2 separate regions of the Homo sapiens genome follow, and region 2 is linked to region 1. Evidence: fine-mapped QTL for protein levels in blood plasma. Region 1 holds a variant in brackets. A gene starts in the other region. All regions are shown on their forward strands.

What was found. PIP is the chance, under the fine-mapping model, that this variant and not a neighbour inherited with it causes the effect. The UK Biobank Pharma Proteomics Project read protein levels with antibody pairs (Olink). The fine-mapping took linkage between variants from a reference panel, not from the people measured, so its PIPs are less certain.
Region 2: INSL4 starts here. The variant in region 1 is fine-mapped to the plasma level of the INSL4 protein (UK Biobank, PIP 0.97).

What each region holds. Positions count from the first base shown.
Region 1 is chr19:19,907,304-19,912,690 of GRCh38, forward strand. All of the region lies in intron 1 of ZNF93 (zinc finger protein 93), which reads left to right. It also overlaps the pseudogene BNIP3P47. Among named protein-coding and RNA genes, the nearest start is that of ZNF93, 9.1 kb to the left of the region's middle. The variant GA/G (reference allele first, on the strand shown) is at 2,920.
Region 2 is chr9:5,229,039-5,234,425 of GRCh38, forward strand. INSL4 (insulin like 4) reads left to right here and starts at 2,381. Exons shown (of 2, transcript NM_002195.2): 1 at 2,381-2,681; 2 at 4,616-5,387. The coding sequence starts at 2,486. The coding sequence ends at 4,839. RefSeq lists a promoter at 1,658-2,475.

The DNA.
Region 1 (5,387 bases):
GAATGATAAAGACTAAAAGATACTAAGTTCCATTGACAGAAACCTGATTATTCAAGTTAATTATCAAATATTTGCAGGCTGAAGTGCTTATACTGCAAAAGCAAAAACAGTTCAGTGTGTAAACTGAACAGTGGAGTCTGTAGTTGTGCCTTGCTTTCTATTTATTACTTCAGAACAATTAGCATAGTTATGTGTAGTATTTGCAGACAACCTGCATTCATATAAATTTAACAGCATTTTCTTTTCTTTTTTTTTTTTTTTGAGACAGAGTCTCACTCTGTTGCCCAGGCTGCAGTGCAGTGGCATGATCTCAGCTCACTGCAACTGCTGCCTCCTGGGTTCAAGTGATTCTCCTGCCTCAGCCTCCCGAGTAACTGGCATGCATCACCACACCTGGCTAAGCTTTTGTATTTTTAGCAGAGATGGAGTCTTACCACGTTCGCCAGCTTGATCTTGAACTCCTGACCTCAGGTGATTCACCCACCACAGCCTCCCAAAGTGCTGGAATTACAGGTGTGAGCCATAAACAGTATATTCTACAATAGTATGAATATAAAGCTGCAATACTTACTTTGAATGAATCACTTAAATGGTTATTTTAATATTGTTATTTATACTTTTGAAATATAAAGTGTTTGAAGTATAGTTGCAATTTTTTTAAATGCTACATACATTACTACTGGTACATTAAAATATTCATACTTATTTATATCTAATATCCAAAGAAAATTTACTACCAAAGTGTTACAGTTAGTCTGACATGTTTGTTACTTTATTCAATGGGGATCATTATGGGTAAACACAATTTTAGTATCTTTTGTTTCACTAAATTGGAACGCTGCTATTACAGGACAAATAAAGACAGGTGATGTGGCCACCAAAAACCATAATAGCTCTTCAGTTAACTATGTTACAAGGTCTAATATGTTCCACTGTATGAACACAGTCAGATTCTATTTCTTCATCAAAAAGTGTTGTTGGAAGTTGACAGATGATTTCCATATAGAACCCCCATTCAATGGCTAGAAAATGAGACTGCAGCAGAGATGGAAAAGAAACTTTATAAAATTTTTCTGAAAATCTGCCCTCTTTCTTCATAATGCTCATGTTTCTCATACTGAGAGTAGCTGTGCACTTTGGGTGTTTAGAAATAAATTGCTTTTAGGGGCGTATTTTCTGGCTGATGATCAATCTTATATCTAATCTGAGCTTTTTCTTGAGATCTTTTTACCTTTTTTCTTTCAAAATAATCTTGCTGGCCGGGCGCAGTGGCTCACGCCTCTAATCCCAGCACTTTGGGAGGCCGAGGTGGGCAGATCACCTGAGGTCAGGAGTTCGAGACCAGCCTGACCAACATGGAGAAACCCCTTCTTTACTAAAAATACAAAAATTAGCCAGGCATGGTGGCACATGCCTGTAATCCCAGCTACTCCAGAGGCTGAGGCAGGAGGATGGCTTGAACCCAGGAGGCGGAGGTTGCTGTGAGCCGAGATCGCACCATTGCACTCTAGCCTGGGCAACAAGAGTGAAACTCCGTCTCAAAAAAAAAAAAAAAAAAAAAAAAAATCTTGCTCAGATGGAGATTTGGTTTTCTCTCTAATGCTTTGGGTGTCTGTTTCAGAAATCCTATTAGTATCCCGTGGTGTCTGAATGAGGTGGGCTGTCACAGTGAGAACTTTTGAAGATATGTCTATCTGGACTCATGCTGAAAATTCAGAAGTATTTTTTCCATGTCATCATTATAAGTAGAAACTGAGGCTGAAACACTGCTCACATTCTGATTATTGTGAAGGTGAAATTCTATCCATGACGCCTGCAGGCTCTCCTCCTGCAGCTCAGACGTCACTCTCTGATGTGACACTAGAGTGCTGCTGTGGCAAATGGGGTTCACATAAAATGTAAGCTGTGCTCTGGGCTGTGCCTCAGTGGCAGATGGTAGCGGTAAAGAGAGGACACTAGCAACTAGGAGAAAGTAAACAGGAGTGCTGTAGCCCAGTGCCAGGGAGTACAGAGCCACTGCTCTAAAATGTAAATAGCCAAAAAGAACACTATTCAGCCATTTTTGTAGCAGAGTGAAAGCCTAGCTTCAGCAGACACCTGGCTTCAAGCTGCTAAACCAACTCCTGTTATGAAGATGTGAAAAGTTTATTTGTCATTGAATATAAGCAATTAGTATACACAGATGGCCTCTTCAGTATCCAGGTGAATTTAGGATGAACTATATATGACATGGTGCTGAAAATTCTTCTACTTGTGGACTAATTATGATGACCATCTTTCTGACTTTGCAGTCTCTTAAGCAGATTGATGATGATGTATGTCACATTCAAGTTTAATTGTGTAATAAGACCATTTTCTTTCTGTTCTATTATTGTGGAGTTTCTCTGAAAATAGAGAAAATTTTTCTTTTAATTATTGTTTCCACAGAGTGTCTAGAATTACCAGACATGATATAAACACATAAGGTGCCAACCAGAATTTACTGTAGAGGGGACTTTCCCTCTCAGACTTTGAGTCAGCCCATACTTGCGCAGCAAAATGCATGCTGTCCATTAAATATGCACGTGGAATTTTGTCTCTGCCTATTTGGTATTGATAGTTCCTCTACTGTCACTTCTAGAGAGGCTAGACCCAATTTCTACAAACTTCACAGGGCAGCAATTAATTAATCATTTAACCTTTTTCAGTGACTCTTGTATCTTCAGATTTGAAACTGATTCAGAAACTATGGAGCCCAGAAACCCAATCAGAGTAACATGTGTGTGCTGAGTAGACATAGAGACATGAGAATCTCCACTTTCCCCTTCCTCCTCTTGCTAAATGCTCACAAATGTACAGGTAAACACCTGTGGCTACTCCAGTCGTTCAGGCCCTAAACTTGAAGCTCCAAATTTTGAATCCAGGTCTTGAGATTTGGGG[GA/G]AAAAAAAACTTACCTAAGAAATGCAAGTCCCTTTGGTTATCAAACTCAGACATTAAAATGAAAGTACTGTTATGTCTTTCTCCCCCCTTTGAACTATGTATTCATCTCTTGAAACTGTTCACTATTGCCACAAGTAATTATAAATTAAACTAATAATGCCACATTAGACACTATATCCCATACCCTAAACCATAATAATATATATGTAATCAATAATCGATGTTATTTCTGTAAATAAATAAAAATTTCTGACAATCAACTTTGTATCAGCCCACTCTCTGTCCCTGTCTTGTTGTCTTTACAAATTGTCTTGTAACTGCTGGTAATCAAAATGCAGATTCCAGGCAACTTGAATCTTTGCTCCCAGGTTATAATCCTTAAGCTTGACCCAAGTAAACTATCTACTTATATTCATGTTCTTTCAGCTTTTTTTTTTTTTTTTCATGTAGACTTACCATTTAGAATGTGCTAGAGTAGTCTCTATGAGGGGATCTCTCCTTTGATTGTATTCCACTTGCTGTAACACCAAAGGATGCAGAGCCAGGTGGATCCTACCTGGAATCTGCAGATAAGGTCTGGCCTCTGCCTGGGATTTACAAGAAAGGACCAGAACTTGGATTGAGAATGTACAGAAAATGAACAAAAGTCATTTTCTGCATTGTGAATGTAAACATAGACATCTTACAGCCCCCATTTGGGAGTGTGGCTCTTTGAGATTTTCACATCTTGTTCATTGACCTGCTACAGTTATGTGAGGGGCTCCAGGAGAAATAGACTCAGATGGCAGAATCTGTAAGTGTAAATAAGCATCTTAGGAGTGAGAGATCGGGGCCACAAAGTATCCAGAGCCATGACCACAATTATATTTAGCTGTAAAATGTAATACTAGAGTAGAGTATTTTTGATCTTTCTCTTACCCAAGAGCTAGCAAATCAGAATGGGTGATCCAGGTTCTGGAGCTCCACCAGGGCAGTTCCATTTTCTATTCAGAGTTAGCCTGAGTCTCTCCAGCCTGGCTTATCATTGGGCCATGAGGCCTGGGTCACTGGGAATCTCTCACAATCACCCAGGTGTCTTTGAGGCATTTGAGGATGTCCAGAGCAGAATTTTGTCAGGCTGACAAGAGTGGTTAATTCTGCTTCTGTCTCAGTGTAAGAGAAATGAGTCATCCTGTGTTTGTTCATTCCCTCATACAAGAGATATCTTTGGTTGGTACCCCGATGACAGCTTCTCCAGTTTCCTGGTACTTGGATAATAAGGAGAAGATCTGGAGACCCAGATAGATAAACTAGCTCCTTCCACTTCATATGGGCATTAAAAAAATACATGAAGCAGTCATAGTTCCTACAATCCAGAAACTTTTAGTCTAGACTAGCTACTGGATAAGTAATTGAAGTGTGCATCATATGGTTGGTATAATAAATAGATGTGTTAAAAATCTTGGGCTTTAGACCACTTTCTTTATATTGTTGTGACTTCTGATGTCTACACCTGAAGGGAGATTTATGAACAAAATAATTGTTATAAATTCTTTTTTTTTTTTGAGATGGTGTTTCACTCTGTCACCTGGTCTGGCTTGCAGTGGCACGATCTCGGCTCACTGTAAACTCTGCCGCCCGGGTTCAGGTGACTTTCCCTTCTCAGCCTCCCGAGTAGCTGGGATTACAGTTGCCTGCCACTGCACCTAGCTAATTTTTGTATTTTTACTAGAGGCGGGGTTTCATCATCTGGATCAGGCTGGTCTTTAACTGCTTGACCTCGTTCTGCACCCGCCTTGGTCTCCCAAAGTCTTGAGATTACAAGCATGACCCACCGCGCTTGGCCGTATATTTTCTATTTCTTTTACCTTGCTAACTGTAGATATTTATTTTCTAATAAAATTACCCTAGAAAACCTTAAGGGATTTGTTTAAGTTGCATACTAGTATATAGTATAAAGTTGTCAGGGCAGTGACTAGAAAAGATAAAAACTACAGAAACTCTGGGATTTAAGTTTCTTTTAGGTAAGCTTAGAAACAAAACAAAACTGGAAGTTTCCTAGTTGCATAGAGAACAGAATTCTACATAGGGTTCTCACCCTGCCCCAGACGTGTTCAGATTCATCCTTTTTGGAGACCTTAGTTAGGTCTGAACCTACCCTGGAGTATTGCCTCACAGAACTCATTAAAGGAGATCAGAGTTTTGGCTGCTGAATCCTGCTGCCTTTCTAGAGCTGGTGCTCACAATTTCCTGAAATTCAAAAGCAGATAAATCGGGAAAAAAAGTATGTTTTGTAAGGTGTTTGTTTTTAAATTTTTTATTAAAACCAGTGCTTGCAGAGACATTGTATTTAGCAACTTGTTTTCTATTCCTGCAGATCCAGTAGTTGCTGCACAAGTCAAAAAAGTAAATATAAACAGAATGAAATTTTCTCTAGACTACATTAAACTCTTCTGTATCTCTTTCATCTGTCTATATTTAGCTTTTA
Region 2 (5,387 bases), not on the chromosome of region 1:
CAGATAACACTACAGATCACTCTACTATCCTCCCATTGTGTGTAAATTATAAATGTTCTAACCCTTAGTGTGCACCTACTGAAACACAATTATGGCTACATCATGGCAAAAGAAGTGCCTTAACAGTCTTAGCTGCAGGTAGCCTCAAAACGGAAATCAAGTCTGCTTTCCCAAACATTCCTTCCTGTGCTAAAGAACAAAGCCGGAAAAATAACGGATTCCACTTTAGCTGGGAGATCTGTCATGGGGAATAAGCTCATAGCCTCCAGTTAGGCAATTATAACATCCTAGACTGGAGCCCCTGTGGCCATTTGTAGGGCAGCCTTACTGATATCCTCATCCATCATGGCATCGATCACAGTTTCATAGCCTCGTCCCATTCCCTTATGATTTGGGCCGATGGGAGGATAGGATATCCCAGACCCCGAGTAAAGTTGATGCCTCCCCAAGACACTTTATGTTGCCTGGGACATCTTAGCACCTCCCTTGACACCTGGCATGGGACATATCATAATTACAGTAACAACTATACTATAACCTTTATTCATAATCACACTGATCAGTCCCTAATTTGCAACTCCATCCATATGTTTTCCTTATGGGAACTAATATTTCTATTACAACCCAAAATTCCATGTTTGTGACCCGGGTGCAAGGACAGGCTTTGTTTGCCTCATGTACCACTAATTACAATATATCTAATTTAAATACTACTAGTGTCATGGTATTAAGGAGACAATCTGAGGCATTCCTACCCGTCAATTTGACACACTATTGGCAAGGTTCCTCTTCCTTTGCCACCTTAGAATGTGCCCTATCCCAGGTCAGACCCAAAAGATTTATAGGCACACTTATAACCTTTATAGTCTCAGCCATAGTCATCCTAGCAACTGCTAGTGTGGCTATAGCATCTACTACCGAATCAGTGCAAACAGCTGCTTTTGTAGACAATTTGGCCAGAAATGTGTCTAATGAACTTCTCTTACAGCAGGGTATAGATCAAGAGATTCTTGCACGTCTGCAAGCCCTCGAGGCTGCCTTGGAATTTGTGGGGGAGCGACAAGATGCCCTAGCATTCTGATAGCAATTAAACTGTGACTGGGAGCATAAACATATCTGTGTCACATTTTTACCTTGGAATCAATCAATACATAGTTGGGATGAGGTGAAACAACACCTCTGGGGAAACTTTCATGACAATTTAACAGCAGACGTAAAGCAACTTAAAACTAAAATTTTAGAATCCCTTCACATGATAGATCTACATACTCAACAAACAGCCATATGGAAAGGTGTGCAAGATCATTTCTCCTGGTTATACCCCCGATCCTGGGGGTCACACTTTGACTGGAAAGGAATGTTACTAATTATACTCATGATTGTCTTACGTTATTTGCTAATTCTATGATGCAAAGCCGGAATAAAAGCAAAACCTAACAAACCTGTTGCTGCACACATCTGTACTCTTAAGTCAACAGAACCCGATGCAAAGAACAGAAAGGGGGGAGATGTGAGAGTTCAGTCAGGCTGGTGGGAAAATTTTTTCAGATAGTTATAAGAAAAAGACGCAAACCTTTTTGAAACGCCGGAGGGGTTTGTATAAGCTCCAGTAATAGATCAGGCTGAAGGCAGCCTAATCCTTACCTTGAGTTAATAGCTTAAGGCACAGATACAAATGAATGTAGTTTATCTAGTTTGTTTACTCATGTGGTCCTAAGACTAATCTTTGATCAACCGCGGGTGCATAATTGCTCTCTACTCGGGAGGTTGGCAATGTCAATTACCTTCTAGTGGTGTTTACTCAAGACCTTCGTCATTTAATCTATGCTGAATAAATGTGAGCTTTGCTGGCTGATCGGGGCCACGGCTGCAACTCTTTACAGCACCCTCCTTGGTGTCTGTAGGTGGCCCGGACCCTCAGCTGGACTGACAGGCAAACTATCTGTGTCAGTGTATGTTATTCATCCGTCGTTGGGTCAGGGTCTGTGGGACAGACCCCCGCAATTAAAAGCTTATATGCCAAATGTTAACTAAGATAATTTCTAGCCAATGAGCTTACAGGTCAGTTCTATTTTTATTTCATCTAAGCAAAGGACATTAAAAATTACCATTATTTTAGTAAGCATAAAAATAGTATTACAGGAGGAAAGTTAAGAAAAAGAAGTAGAACAACCAAATTCAAAACAAGCAAAGTGCAGCAGCACATTGGGAGCAAAGAGGGATATGAGAGTGTGGGTAGGGCAAGTAGGGAGACTAAATAAGAACTGAGGGAGAAAGTTCCTTGTAGGTGGGTGGGAAAGGGGTGGAACTGACACCATTGACGCAAAAGCTGAGTAATAGCCCTAAGCAAATAAATGCCTGATGAAGGCATGCAGAAAGCAGTCTGGAGCCCAGAAGGGACACACCAGCACAGTCTGGTAGGCTACAGCAGCAAGTCTCTAAAGAAAGGCTGAGAACACCCAGAACAGGAGAGTTCAGGTCCAGGATGGCCAGCCTGTTCCGGTCCTATCTGCCAGCAATCTGGCTGCTGCTGAGCCAACTCCTTAGAGAAAGCCTAGCAGCAGAGCTGAGGGGATGTGGTCCCCGATTTGGAAAACACTTGCTGTCATATTGCCCCATGCCTGAGAAGACATTCACCACCACCCCAGGAGGGTGGCTGCTGGAATCTGGACGTCCCAAAGGTGAGAGCCCTGGACTACCAAACAATCAGAATGAGGCCTGAAAAAACAGGCTCCAGATCTCATTGACTGCCTGTAGTCAACTCAGACTCTACTGTGGCTAGTGCCTACAAGTTTGTGGTTTTTCATTGTAATGTGCTTTTATTAAAAGGGTCTCACCAGAAATCTCATGGGAAGTTGGGGGTAGAGGAGAAGCTGCAGGAAAAACAGAAGAACAGCCTCACCTTGGAGGCTCTTGGTGCCTTTCCCACCTGGCAGCCAGAGATACAGGGTGGAGAAAACAGGGAATCCTCAGAGAAGGTGACTATTCTCAAACACCAGCAGGAGGTGAGGTGTACTCCCAGACCCCCAGGAAAGCTGGGCAGGCCAGAAAACAGGTGTGATTGCAATGAGATGCCTGGGCCAGGCATCTTCAATTAAGAAGAAAGGGGACAAACAGTGAGGTGATGAGCTGATTATCATTTCTGTTTATGCACCTATTGGCCTAGGGGCAGCACACTGAGACCTCTGTTAGGTTCCTGGAATGTGAGATAAAGGGGGCTTAGATTTAATAACTCTCATCCTTTGTCATTAAGCTGGGCAGTGGTCTATGTCACCAAAAACGTCCTCTTACAAAAAAGTTTTTTTTAATGCACACCAACAGAGCACCTTGCCTCCCATTTCTTTGAATCTACTCTTGTAGTGTGTTGAGAGAGATGAGATGAAGAGAAAGAAAGTGGCCTGGATGACTAGAGGGGAAATTGAAGGGGACCAGAGACAAGGGAATTTCACTGTTCAGACCATCATAGCTGATTTGATTAGTGTTTTCAACATTTGAGACTGCAAAGCATTTTCTTTAAAAGCAAGATTTCAGAATTGAGGAAAGTTCAATACCAGGATAGTTTTCAAACTTTACCAAGTAACAAGGTATTCATAAAGATAAATTGCCAGCTAAGTTAAAACTAGCAGGGGCAGTTTCGAAAAGAGATAGAGGCTACTATATTCTGTCTAATAGGTCGTATTAAGTTCTGAAAAGCTAAGTTAAATTACTAAACATTGTTTTACATTTAATACAAATGACACAGGTTTTGAACCAGCAATGTGTGACTCCAGAACTGCTTCTTGTAACCCATATGCATACACTTCATTAAATCATTAAATGACTCTGTTTAAAGTTATCGTGCACAGTGAATGCACTTGGATTTTGTGTGATTTATATAACGATTTCAAAGTTATTTCCTTTTTTTACATTATTAGTCAGAGCTTGTTTCATTTTACTATAAAATAAGGGAAGAATACCACAAAGTCCAAACAATTTCTAATGCAAACTAAGGAAGAGCATGCTGTACTATAATTTCTATTTAAATTTCACTTTTTTTCAGTAAATAAGTGAAAATCCTCATTTAAATACTTTGACAAATATAGATAAATTTAACAAGAAAAATGGAAAGTATTCATGGATAACAAATGTTAACATTTGGTGTCGACACATATAGATGTATGTTGCTTCTCAGCCTTTTAGCTAAGATCCACTGATATAGATGTATAGATTTATGTGGATCAGATTTGAATATCTGAATCTTTCTATTAGAATAACTTGTGATTATAAAAAAAATTCCCTATTGCTATCCAGTACATAATGCATTGAGGTTATCAATCAAAACAGTGTCAGGGAGAGTCAAAAGTGGTATGGTATAGGCATTTAGAGGGTCATTAGAAGAGTGCATAGAGGGGACAGGATGAGGAGTTAGCATATCCTTAATATTGTAGTATCTTAAAGTGCCCTACTCTAAGTAAGCTAAGTTGTTGAAATGTTAGGATACTTGCTGATTCTCTCTGGTGTTTAATTACATGGAGGCAATGGGTACATTGTGGTCTAGGCAAATTGTATAATTTTTCTGATCCTCTTTCACATGAATGTTTTTCCTCACCTTTCATTCCTCTCTTTTACTTCACAGAAATGGTGTCAACCTCCAACAACAAAGATGGACAAGCCTTAGGTACGACATCAGAATTCATTCCTAATTTGTCACCAGAGCTGAAGAAACCACTGTCTGAAGGGCAGCCATCATTGAAGAAAATAATACTTTCCCGCAAAAAGAGAAGTGGACGTCACAGATTTGATCCATTCTGTTGTGAAGTAATTTGTGACGATGGAACTTCAGTTAAATTATGTACATAGTAGAGTAATCATGGACTGGACATCTCATCCATTCTCATATGTATTCTCAATGACAAATTCACTGATGCCCAATTAAATGATTGCTGTTTATTAGAACATGAGAATCATTATTAGTATTCACATGTTTCACTTGCTCTGTACTAATATAGTCTCTCCAAATGGAGGAAGTTAGATAGATGGAATAAGTTCTAGTAGTTGATAGTACAATGGGGAAATTATACTTAACAATAATTCACTGTATATTCCAAAATAGCTAGAAGAGAATTGTAATGATTCCAACACAAAAAAGATGAATGTTAGTTTGGATGCATATCCCAATTACCCTGATTTGATCATTACACATTATATACACGTATCAAAATATCACATGTACTACAAAAATGTGTATAACTGTAATATGTGAACTACAAACTTACTGGAAATAAATTTTTAAAGTTTTACACACATAAACACATACGTTCACACACACTCACTCAAGTCTCTTCATTTTTCCTCTTTTCACACTAGAAGAAATGTAAGAGATAAAGGATCTAACCATCTCTAACATC